4 separate regions of the Homo sapiens genome follow, and regions 1, 2 and 4 are each reported to be linked to region 3. The links are microRNA targets in miRTarBase. Many come from high-throughput screens and were not tested one by one. Region 3 holds a microRNA gene; each other region holds the end of a gene's coding sequence.
What was found. The annotated mature microRNA hsa-miR-5580-3p reads CACAUAUGAAGUGAGCCAGCAC and lies in region 3 at 2,007-2,028, shown strand. An mRNA with a match to its seed (bases 2 to 7 or 8) in the 3' UTR can be bound and repressed. Matches are read on the target gene's strand: a 7mer-m8 pairs with bases 2 to 8, a 7mer-A1 pairs with bases 2 to 7 and ends in A, and an 8mer does both.

Region 1: the mRNA of DDX4 is a reported target of hsa-miR-5580-3p. The part of its 3' UTR that is shown has no 7-base or 8-base seed match.
Region 2: miRTarBase lists UBR2 as a target of hsa-miR-5580-3p. Seed matches in the 3' UTR shown: 7mer-m8 at 755-761 and 8mer at 335-342.
Region 4: the mRNA of C1orf216 is a reported target of hsa-miR-5580-3p. Seed matches in the 3' UTR shown: 7mer-A1 at 2,829-2,835 and 7mer-m8 at 2,610-2,616.

The regions. Positions count from the first base shown.
Region 1 is chr5:55,816,350-55,819,349 of GRCh38, reverse strand. DDX4 (DEAD-box helicase 4) reads right to left here. Exons shown (of 22, transcript NM_024415.3): 22 at 2,193-2,887. The coding sequence ends at 2,810. Among named protein-coding and RNA genes, the nearest start is that of IL31RA, 34 kb to the left of the region's middle.
Region 2 is chr6:42,690,564-42,693,794 of GRCh38, reverse strand. It overlaps UBR2 (ubiquitin protein ligase E3 component n-recognin 2), which reads right to left. Exons shown (of 47, transcript NM_001363705.2): 47 at 290-2,763. The coding sequence ends at 2,622. Among named protein-coding and RNA genes, the nearest start is that of PRPH2, 30 kb to the left of the region's middle.
Region 3 is chr14:53,947,224-53,950,454 of GRCh38, reverse strand. It overlaps MIR5580 (microRNA 5580), which reads left to right and starts at 1,971; the gene lies at 1,971-2,028. BMP4 (bone morphogenetic protein 4) reads left to right here. Exons shown (of 4, transcript NM_001202.6): 4 at 1-719. The coding sequence ends at 423.
Region 4 is chr1:35,712,769-35,715,999 of GRCh38, forward strand. It overlaps C1orf216 (chromosome 1 open reading frame 216), which reads right to left. Exons shown (of 2, transcript NM_152374.2): 2 at 1,109-3,231. The coding sequence ends at 2,864. Among named protein-coding and RNA genes, the nearest start is that of C1orf216, 4.5 kb to the right of the region's middle. RefSeq lists an enhancer at 2,740-3,034.

The sequences.
Region 1 (3,000 bases), not on the chromosome of region 3:
TGTGAGTTAAATCTTCATATATCAAAGTCAACAGACGTTCTGGTTGGTGACATAAAAATACAGGTTGAGCATCCCTAATCCAAAAATTCAAAATCCCAAATGCTCCTAAACCTGAAACCTTGAGCACCAATGTGATGCCTCAGATTGTCCACATGTGACTAAGATAGTGACACCTTAGTTTTCAGACAGCTCAAGGTACACAAACTTTGTTTCATGCACAAAATTACTTAAAATATCAAAACTTATCTTCAAGTTGTATATGAGGTATAATGAAACAAATGAATTTCATGTTTAGGCTTGGGTCCCATCTCCAAGATCTCTCATTATATATTATGCAAATATTCCAAAATCCAAAAAAAAATCTGATATCTGAAACATTTCTGGTCCCGAGCATTTCAGATAAGGGATACTCAACCTGTATATGATGGCAGTGAACAGAAATTGTTAATAATAGCTGATTGTTGGATGTGGAATGGCAATTTGGAAGGGGAGGGGCAGAAAAATATTGCTTTCTATTATAAATGCTTCTATGGCATTTTCTTTTCTAATTTATGCATGTTACTTTGATAATTTTTAAAGAGATGATTCAAACCTATACCTAGAAATGAGGAGAGTAATTAAACATAGGGACATTTACAGTTCATCTGTAATGGTGGTAGATGTATGATACATTTCCTTTCCTTTTTTATATTTGATTCAGTAATGCTACTATGGTAATCTGACAAATCAAGCAAAAGCTTAAAAGGAATCAGTTCAGAGGGAGCAATCTGTTAAAAAAAAAAAAAGCAATGAAAAAAATGAGACAAGACTGGCCTATACTCTTCCTAAACGAAACTAGAAAATTAAGACATACAGATATTACAAATAACAATCCAAACACCTTCATTCATTTAGCCTTTCCCAGAAGTGAGATAACAGAAGAAAAGTGAAATATGTCCCATATTTTTATTAATTGAACTTCCCTTTTTGAGTTTTTCTTGTTGTCAACATTTTTTCTTTTTATTATTATACTCGAAGTTCTAGAGTACATGTGCACAACATGCAGGTTTGTTACATATGTATACATGTGCCATGCTGGTGCCCTTTTTGAGTTTCTATGTTCTTTGTATTCTTCTATTAGTATATCCACATATAAAGAACACTGATAACCACTGTGGTCACAGTAATATTTTTCCTTGTCTACTTTTCACTATTTTTTATGTAGGCAACTAATCTTTCCTTGAGTGATCAAATCTGTTGTTTCTTTTTTGATTTCTGTTCCTTAGCTTAAAGTCAACCCTTCAAAGGGTTAATATTTAACTATTAGCTTTAATATTTTATAATTCACATGAAGTTAATTTTAAATATGGCATGAGGTAGGCATCTACCCAGTTATTCTAACACTATCTGTTGATATGCCTTCCTTTTTCATATGTGATGCCTCATTTATTAACTAAATTCCTATAACAAGATATACATCAGGGACATGTCACTTTGGATTGTTTAGGTGAACAGTAACACTTAATACCAATCATTTTTGTCTCCCCAGTATTTACACCTCACTGGGTCTTAAATATTTGGGTTCGTTCATTTAACAATTAATTAATAACTTCGGGCTGGGTGCGGTGGCTCACGCGTGTAATCCCAGCACTTTGAGAGGTGGAGGCGGGCGGATCACGAGGTCAGGAGTTCGAGACCAGGCTGGCCAACATAGTGAAACCCGTCTCTACTAAAAATTAGCTGGGCATTGTGGCGCGTGTCTGTAATCCCAGCTACTCGGGAGAGGCTGAGGCAGGAGAACTGCTTGAACCCGGGAGGCAGAGGTTGCAGTGAGCCAAGATCACGCCATTACACTCCAGCCTTAGCAACAAGAGCAAGACTCCGTCTCAAAAAAAAAAAGAACTTCATTATTCTAGGCATAGTAAGTTCAAGATATATAATGGAAAATGAAGAAAGACAGGGTTCTTTCATCAATCTTAAAATATGAATCAAAAACTTATGGAAAGAGTAAGCAGCATTGTTTTTTGTTGATAAACGGGTTTGAGTTCTAAGATTGATTTTCATTGCCACATCTGTGCAGTAATGTTTATACATTAATATTTAATTTATGTAAGACTTTGTTCACTGCACTGGTTACGCAAGACACAAAAAAACAGTTTCAAAAATATAGGAGTTTGGGCTAGGATATGCAACAAAGAAAAATTTAAAGTGCTGATGGAAAACTTAAGGGAAAAGTGTTTCATCCTTTATTTCAAGGAAAGATTGTATATTATAAAAATAAACATTGTTATGCCATTGAGTACAGAGCTCCCATCACAAACATTTAACCATTTTCATCATACATCTGATGATCTAAAAATCAAAATCACTTTGAAAGGCTTAAGTATTCTACTTTCTCTTAAAGATTATCACATTATAGTGACACACTACTGTTTTAAAGACTCAAGTAAAAATGAGACCCAGTAATTTTTAACCAAAAGTGTATCATATCCTATTTGCTTGTTTTATAAGATCAATAAACACTATAGTAAGACTTGGCATTTAAACATTAAACATGTCTAAGCCCCCTAAAGAATATACCAGAAATAAGAAAGACATTTAGAATGCTTTAATATTCCCAGTTAACACCATTTGTATCAGTAACTGCAATGTTGTAAGTTTTAGCATCTCACATAACTAGTCAGTAAGGATTTTTTTTTTAAGTGTAGGAGTGAGAATACAAGGACAGGAGCTATGAGAATGTTAAGTTTTATACTTCTGTTAAAAACTCAAAAATCAAAACTATTTTCTTCTCTGCATCAAAACCACAGACTTGAAGGATGTTTTGGCTTTAATCCCATGACTCATCATCTACTGGATTGGGAGCTTGTGAAGAAGAAAACCCAGCTGTGTTCAAAGTGCTCTTGCCCTGGTAATTATTTAAAAAAAAAAAAAAAGAAACAAACAAACATTTAATTTTATGACAGCTTTAAAGTTACATCACTCAGACTGAGAGCAAGGACTCAAAGTATCTACCATGTC
Region 2 (3,231 bases), not on the chromosome of region 3:
AGACACAGGTCTTGGAGTGCCCTGTTTCCCAGTGATTTGAGTTCCAAAATGGTCCACAAAGGTCACACGCTGTCATGGCTAATGAATATGAAACTTAATCAGCTGAAATGATGATCACACTTTCTCTGAGAAGGTCAAGATAGTTTGGCTAGTGGCCATAATAATATAACCCTCTTAAATTTAAAGCTAATACAGATATCCCACTATATTTGTAGCAAGGTGACACGGGCACCTTGCTGTGGCAGGTAAATGTGTAAAATGAAACAGAAAGATATATGCTAACCAAAAGTAATGCCAACACCTAAAGCATTTATTTGGATATCTTTAAACTTTTTACATATGATACATTCCAAATTTTACAAGTTGTCCACAGATATTAAAGTTATAGCCAATTTATTAAACAGATATGATTTTCCCTGATATGGAAAGCGTATGTTATATAAACATTTCTACAATAAACATAAAACATGCGGAACAAATCATAAAACTAACATGATTTGTAAGGTAGGAAAGACAACTAGCTTAACACCAGAAAATAAAAAGGTGTGTATGTTGCAATTTCATGTAAATTCATCTTCTCCCAGGCTCTGTGATATTCTCAGAGAATGAAATCCAGAGACAACCTTTGCTAACTCCAGGCTCCTAGGAAGTCGGACCGGAAAGCTGGAGTATTGTTATGATTTGGTGAAAATGTTTATAATCCACTTGTACAGAGAGAAACCTGGTCTTATTATTTTAAATTTTAGCTTGGTGAACATATGAAAAAAAGCCAAAAGAAGCTTACCTTAAAAGCTAAAGAAACTGGATGTGACAGAGGCCAAAATAAACATGAATTATGCCACCTACAGCCCAAACAACCAGATCTTATGAATGAAGGCCAGAAAAAGGGGGAGAGAGGTGGACTCAAATGTGAATTTTCTTTCTATTGGTCCTCCTCTCAGCTGGGTGAGTCAGTCCCACGCAAGAATGGCGACGGTCATCCTCCTGTCAAGAGGGGGCGGTTCTTTCACACACTACCTTGGAGAGGAATGTGGCTTCTACATCCTCACTTCTTTTAGCTTCAGTTCCAGATTTCTGACCTTCTTCCTGTGATACTGTGGAGCATGCCTAGTTGACTGGTAGCTGAGTGGAACAAAACTTGTAGATGTAATTCAAAGAAAACTGATTGAAAGGGTCAGTTGCATTGGTTAAAAAAATCCAAGAGCCTCTTATTACTCATCTGTTCCTTAGCCCCACCTTAGACAGGCTCAGAATTTATTCCTCTACTAAGTCTTCAGTCACTCTCTGCATGTATTCAAGCTCTCAGCAGTCATACATCAAACAATAGTAGTTGTGTGGTACATAATAATTATAAGCTATTTTGTAAGTGGCTCTTGTTCTAGGAAGGCACCTCAGTAAGAACAATGATCAAAAAGAATAAAAAGCCTGGGTGCCAGACCATCCCAGGAATGCACTAAGTGAGCCAGCAAGGAAGCAGCAGCTTGTCTGTTCCAGGAAATGCTGGCTGGGTGGGAGTGGGTTCTCACCTTCTTCAGTGTTTGGCTTTAGATGATATACTCTGCCAATTTAGCCTTAGAAATAACAAGAGAATATCACTGTCTGAAACATTAGGGTATTCTAAAAGAATACAGATAAGAAAATTAGGATACTCTTTTAGAATACCTATTATTTTAAACTTAAGCTTGGTGAACATCTGAAAAAAAGCCAAAAGAAGCTTACCTTAAAAGCTCAAGAAACTGGATGTGACAGAGGCCAAAATAAATATCACTTATGCCAACCACAGCCCAAACAACCAGATCTTATGAAGGAAGGCCTCTCATCTAGATATTAGGATATCTAAAAGAATATCCTAAATTTTTAATCCATATTCTTTTAGAATATCCTAATTTTTCTTCCTAATTCTAAAAGAATATCCTAATTTTTTAGACCATCCTAAGTTTTTGGAAAGCCCTCTAAGTGAGTTTTCTCAAAGCCAAAAGTCTTGCCATAAAAAAAAAAAGAAAAAAAAAAAACCTCTAACAGCCCTGAAAAACCAGCCAGCACACCAGGAATCCACCTTCTCCCCACGGGCTTCTTCTGCATGTGTGTCCCCCAACTCTCTCATAGTCAATGGAGAGAAGGGAACACTGCCTTCAAAATCAACCACTTTGCTCCTAGGAGTAGGGTCCTGTCAGCAGAGGGGACACCAACCCAGTCCCAGTGTTGGGCCACTCAGTGGAACCAGGAAGTATGACCCAACAGACCACAGAGACTTTGTTCCCTGCCTCCGTTGAGTCAGCTTCGGACCCACGGTTCACTATCATCAATAACGTGAAATATCACATAATGGCTGGGACTATGCAGTCAGACCCCCACAAAGGGGCTGGGATCCAATCTAGGAAGAGAAGCTCCTTGCTCGATCTTAAAACCCAAGACATTATATTTGAGGGGCACAGCAAACAGTGCAAGAAAATCTGCTGATGGAAGATGATTTTCATCAGTCCTCAGAACCAGAAACTATAAAACTGGGAAGGAAAGTTTAAATAAAGAATTTATTTCCAAATTCAGCAGAACTTCTTTCTTTCTTAAAAAGCCAACTGGGTTAAAAAAATCCAAGTTTGTGTTTTTTGGTGGTGCAATAATTATAAATGTTGCCAGTCAATGCCAACCAGTGTCTGATTGGCTTCCTGTGCATGTCCAATTTCCTCTGTGACACTGTGTTGGTGCCAGAGCTTCTGAATCTTCTTGAATCGCTCTTTGCATAAATGTAAAGGATTTCCCCGTCTAGAAAGAGAAGACACATGTCACTCAGAATGTGTTCTGTTTATTCCTCTATTATAACCCAACCCTTCCTGATTTAGGCAAGGTTACAAGTTATTGGTTTTAGACTCCCTGCAACATTTCTGTCTGGCAGGTGACTGTGGCTATTAACAAAAACATCAGCTCTGACCCTTTGCCAAGAGCAGGTAAAAGGGAATAAGTGCTGAAATGAGGAAGGAAAGGTACACAAACCAGACTTACCCAGAGTGAGGTGAGGGAATAGAGGTTGCGGGGGATAAGGAGGGTCTGGGTTGAGAGGCTAAAACTACCAATTCATTGCCCATTTTGTTGGTAACGTGTAAAAAGGGAAGAGGGCAGAGGAGAACACAAAAGAAGAATTATAGGAGTAAAAATATTCCTCACAGATTTTACTAAGAGTGCAAAGAAAAAAGAAAAGAAAAGAAAAGAAAAACATTCCTCAGATGCAATCTT
Region 3 (3,231 bases):
CGGCCCCTCCTGGTCACCTTTGGCCATGATGGCCGGGGCCATGCCTTGACCCGACGCCGGAGGGCCAAGCGTAGCCCTAAGCATCACTCACAGCGGGCCAGGAAGAAGAATAAGAACTGCCGGCGCCACTCGCTCTATGTGGACTTCAGCGATGTGGGCTGGAATGACTGGATTGTGGCCCCACCAGGCTACCAGGCCTTCTACTGCCATGGGGACTGCCCCTTTCCACTGGCTGACCACCTCAACTCAACCAACCATGCCATTGTGCAGACCCTGGTCAATTCTGTCAATTCCAGTATCCCCAAAGCCTGTTGTGTGCCCACTGAACTGAGTGCCATCTCCATGCTGTACCTGGATGAGTATGATAAGGTGGTACTGAAAAATTATCAGGAGATGGTAGTAGAGGGATGTGGGTGCCGCTGAGATCAGGCAGTCCTTGAGGATAGACAGATATACACACCACACACACACACCACATACACCACACACACACGTTCCCATCCACTCACCCACACACTACACAGACTGCTTCCTTATAGCTGGACTTTTATTTAAAAAAAAAAAAAAAAAAGGAAAAAATCCCTAAACATTCACCTTGACCTTATTTATGACTTTACGTGCAAATGTTTTGACCATATTGATCATATATTTTGACAAAATATATTTATAACTACGTATTAAAAGAAAAAAATAAAATGAGTCATTATTTTAAAGGTAAATCATGATTTTTTTTTTCTCCTTAATCCTTTCTCTTTTCCTTCGGGCTCATCTCTTTTGAATGAGGCTTTTTTCTGTTCAGGTGAGTTGGAGGCTGGATGGAAGTCAAAAGGTGGTACCTGGAGGTGGTTAAGTTGTAGGGACAGGAAGTAAACTGTTGGCAGAGAGAGATGGTAATTGCCAGCATGAATTGTTTTCTATTTCTATTTAATGTTAACAAGGATGCAGTATCCTCTCCCATCTGGATGACACATGCCTTGGAGAAACACTGGGATGAAAGGAGTGTAGGTCAGATTAAAGACTTCATTTCAGGCCCCTTGTACATCTTCTGTTTCACTCACCTGTTGAGGTGTATCACAGCTGAGCGTGATGAGGTCTCAACCCTAGAAAAATGATACCCACCTCTGCTTTCATGATACCTCAGGGTATCTCCAGTTATTACAGGTACCAATGTGATATTTCCAAATCAAAACTAATTTGTACACTAACATCATAATGTGTGTGTGAAGGCATGTTTTTAAACTTATTTTTTTTTTCTCCAGGTAGGACTCTTTTGTTTTTTCTTTTGTCTTTTTTTTTTTTTGAAACAAGTTCTCTCTTTGTTGCCCCAGGCTGGTCTTGAACTCCTGGGCTCAAGCAATCTTCTCATTTCGGCCTCTTTGGGATTACAGGCATGCACTGCTATTTTGTCTTTTTTTTTTTTTTTTGTAACAAATAATGTACCCTACCTTCAAAAAGTTTGATGACTACTGTTTTAATATGCCACTTGATAGAATTTCCCATTGTTTCTTGACTTTTTCCCTTGTCCTCTTTTCCCAATGTGAAGGCCTTCATCAAGTTTAGGATCCCAACAGATTGGGCTGGGTGGGGGTTGACAATGGGGTCAGATACTAAAGGGTCAGAATTTCTAAGCAGGCACTGTGAAGGTGTCCCACTATTATACAGAAATCTCGAGTCAAATGTCAACTCTCCTTTTCGCTCTGTACTGCCTCCCTCACACCCTCTTCCCTGGACTTGGGCAGAAAGAGGTAGATCTGATGTTCTGTGCTAGGGTTTCTTAAAGGGAAAAGCTCAATTTTTGGACAAAGTTAATAAAAAGGAGGATGCTAATGTACCCTCAGTTAAGGGCTCCCAGCAGGCAGATAAATGCCTTTCTGGAATGACGGGTGTAGGGATTAAGAGGAGCAGAGGAGAGGCCTTTGCTTTTTCTTACTTGCCACCAACAACTAAATTAAGCCTTGAATCTTGGTCTGTGCTGGCTCATTTCATATGTGTGCTGAGAAAATTCACACATATGAAGTGAGCCAGCACAGACCAAGATCCCTTTGGATCCCTTTGGAGCAGAAACATTTAGTGTCTTTGTATGTTCTCTGTGGGGAAGGCTGATAGCGCATTTCTCCATCATGAAGGTGTAGATATGAGCGGTAGTATTGCTGTTGCTGGTGGTGTGTGCACCCAAAGAATGTGTGTGGTGCACACTCCTGGCGTTTGCATTTTTCTAGGTGGGGTGTGCACCCTTGCATTCTTGTACACACTTTCTTACATACGCTCCTGGGAGTGGAGTGGGTGAAGCAGGATTCATTTTTGTTTTTAATTACTGAAGTCCTACACTCCTCCAAAAGGAGCAGCTTAGTGGAAACCAATAAAAATTGAAGCGGGGTGGTTGCCAAAACCCCAGCTCCCCGGAGAGCGCAGGTGGAGAGAAGACATCAGAGCCCCAGGCAAAGGCAGCAAGACTACACAGTTCCTCCAAAACTCCCCGCAAAAAGGGATCCTTCCCCCACCCCTCCAACCCCCCAGGTCGCTGCCCCTTTGATTAATGGTATGGAGCTCAAATAAATCATTTAGGGAAGCCCCTTATAGATTGCCCTCAGGCAGCCTCATTTTGTTTTGCCCAATTTCTAGCAACTTTCTGAAACGTCGATGTCATTGAAAAGGAACCAGTAGATCTCCAGTACTTGAACAAATTATCCTAGGGCCAGTACTGAGCCCTGTGGCTGTCCAGTTCTAGCAACCAGCCCCTTCCTCCATCCTCCCCGCTCCTACTGGCTTATTTTCAGGAATGGATAATGTTGTTTATTTGTTCAGCCAAATATTTGGTCTGGGGAATTTACCGTGAAATTCTGTGAATTGCATATACCTAGTTAACAAAATAGTCCTAATGCCACAAATGTTAGCATGGAAAACAAAGAGCTATGGCCAGCGTTAACTCTTTAAATTCTGTTTGAAAGCTTAGTCCTGAGACCCGGGGAGATTAAAAAAAAAATAAAAAAAATTGGATGTGTGTGATTTAGGTTTCGGCATTTACTATTTTTGCCTAATATTCAGTTCAGTACCTGACGGAAGTCGTAGGGTGATTCTCGGCGTTGCTTTTGGATCAAGCCTACCATTTCACCCCATTCATGTTTTTTTTTTTTTTTTTTCTCCAGAGTAATGTTCCTATTACTGAAAGAAAGATGGGGAGGGAAGCTCGCCCTTGAGGAGTTCGGCAAAGTCGTAACCACATCAGAGGAG
Region 4 (3,231 bases), not on the chromosome of region 3:
CACACCTGTAATCCCAGCACTTTGGGAGGCTCAGGTGGGAGGATGGCTTGAAGCCAGGAGTTTGAGACCAGCCTGGGCAATATAGCAAGAAGCCATCACTACAAAAAACTTAAGAATTAGCTGGGTGTGGTGGTGTGTGCCTGTAGTCCCAGCTACTCAGAGGCTAAGGTGGGAGGATCACTTGAGCCCAGAAGTTCAAGGGTACAGTGAGCTATGATTGCACCACTATGCTCTAGCTTGGGCGTATCTTGGAGACGCTGTCTCCAAAAATAAAGAATCAAATCAAATAAAAATAAAATACAGTATTTCAGATTTGTGAATTTTGGTATCCCTGGGGATCCTGGAACCAATCCCCTCAGATAACAAAGGATGACTGTATATTATAACTACATGTGTGTCAAAACCATCTAAGGACCCGAAATCATAGTCATAGTCAGAGCGCCCTTCAGGGAAGTGATGACACCAGGGTACTTGGTGTTTTATTTTTTGTTTTATTTGGTTTTTTGAGATGGAGTTTCCCTCTTGTTGCCCGGACTGGAATGCAGTGGCACGATCTCTGCCCACTGCAACCTCTGCCTCCCAGGTTCAAGCGACTCTCCTGCCTCAGCCTACTGAGTAGCTGGGATTACAGGCACCCGTCCCCACGTCTGGCTAATTTTTGTATTTTTAGTAGAGACAGGCACCATGTTGGCCAGGCTGGTCTTGAACTCCTGACCTCAGGTGATCCACCCATCTCAGCCTCCCAAAGTGCTAGGATTACAGGTGTGAGCCACCGTGCCCTGCCCAGGGTACAGTTGAGTATGTACGAGTGTGTATGGTATGTGTCCCTCGCAATTCATTTAGGCCCAAAGGTGACACAGGACAAGGACAATCCCATATGGGGCTCTCAGGGTAGAAGTCAAGTCTCCCCTGTCACACTGGATGGCCCCTGAGAGACTTCTCCACCCCATTGGATCGCCAGGCACAGCAGTCTAAATTCTTCAGTGTCTTTCCCCAAAACCACCTCCCTAGCTCCTAGTCCAGGACCCTACTCAAAAGGGGAGCTCAGATGGTATGAAAAAGAGGCCATCAGACAACAGGTAGAAGAAAAACACATACTCAAGAAATGTAATTTTCTGCCCCAGTTTATTCATCTTGGGTTGGTCCAGAAGCCGGGTTTATACACTCAATATGCAAGAGCTACAGACAAAAAGTCTTCAGGGCCCACCCCTCACCCCCACTCTCTGGATCTTTCACCCATCCACCTGTCAGGGATGAAACTCTTTAGAGATAGGAAGAGCCCCCCACTTTGCCGATAGGGAGACTGAGGGCCAGAGGCTGCATCAGTGACTTCCATGCCACTGTTCACCCACCAGTGTCCCCTCTTCATACCACTGCTCACCCACCAGGATCTTGCATTCTCTTGGCTCCCAAGAACAAAGCAGAGAGCTAAGCTACCTTAGTCGTTGGTTCTCTCCAAGACTCACCCACTCTGTAACTCGCGGAGCCTGCCAATCCCTGTTTGAAGGGCCATGCAGTGAAAGAAGGGGTTAAAATTCAGCATCCTAAGCATCTCCAGAGGCTTAGGCTGACACTGTCCCCTTCACATCCCAGAAAGCCAACCTCTGGCTCCTCCTGACAGTCCGACTTCAGAGAAATGAACCAAACCAATTCAACATCCAATGCTGCTAAAGCCAGAGAGGCACAGCAAGGTAGAGGCAGAGACAGGGAAGCGATATTTTCCTCATCGGCCTTGGAACATCTTGTCTGTTACTTGCAAGCTTATAAACATACATTGCTTTTCATCAGAAGCTTAAATGAACACGGTTTGCAACAGCTCCTTTTCCAATGGAGAGATGGTTTGTTTGGGAACTGGTATTTTAGAATTCCCATTCTCCTATTCTTCACAGGGTTCCACTGTTATCATCTTTCCTGTCCCCATCTCCCATGTGCCCAAAGGCAGAGTTCAAGAGGGACAGTCCCCTATGTCCTCTGTCCCCATCCCCACCATCATCTTCATCACTACTCCTGGTTCCCTTTCCTGATACCAGTTCTCCACACACTGCCAAAATTGCAGCCAAAATTCCATGGCAGGCCAGAGCAGCCACTAAACCTCCTACAAGTAAAGCCAACATCAGGGACAATAGCCTCAGCTGAGCAAGTCTGGGTTAAGTGAGGGAAAGGGAAAGGAGAGGTGGCCTGGGAAATCCCAGGAGAATGGGTCAGCCACAACCTTCAGATAAATGACAGCATGCTAGCCCTCTGTCTCCAGGGAACAGTGGGACCCAGTGGAGAAGAAAGGCTGGGGTAGGCCATGAGGAACACAAGGTGTGGGTGGACACCCACAGTGCAGCTGGATATGTATTTGCACACACCTGCTCATGAGTCTGCCTACAAACACACATGCTCCTAACATACACCTCCCATGCCTGTGGCCAAACATGTGCACCCCTGCACACACAAGGGCTTCCTCACATACACCTAATACAAGCCTGCACACTCAAACTCACTCATAGACACACACATCTTCTGCCTATACATCCTCACTCATGCGCATATACACACACTGCTGGGTACCTGTCTACACATGCACATACCGAGTTCCTCATTCTTACATACTACACACACACACATATGTTCACTCTTACATGCTCACATATAGGTCTGCAGATAAATTAGCTGTGTGTACACATGTGCACACAGCACACTTAAGCTCATTTATACATGCTTATTCACACATGCCTACACACACCAGCCTACATGTTAGCACATACACACTCATGCCTACCTGCAATCATGCCAGCAAATTATGTACTTACTAGTGCGCCTCACACATGCCTGCAAATATATACATATACCCTTGCACACTTGTGGAGGCACACCCTTAGGCCTGGTCCTGGGGCCTGGATGGTGCTGCCCTCTGCTGGAGACAGCGAATAAGCTCCTTCCGGTTGTCTAGGATGGTGTCGAAGCTCTCCTGCAGTCGGGCCTGCTGGTCAATCAACTGATGCTGCAGGCCCCGGATCCACTGGAGCAGTGCCAGGCGACGGTACATCACCAAGTGCACGTGGTGCTTTTCCTTCTCCTGCTCTTTGTAGCGCTCCTGGACTTGTAAGTGCTGCACAGCCTGGGCCACTGAGGGCAGAAGGGGATCGGGAGGGCCAGGGCCTCGCGGGGTCCCACAGGCAGGCTCAGGACTGCTGCTACGGCTGTCAATGCTCAGGGAACTGCTGGCATAGCCGTTGTCCTCCA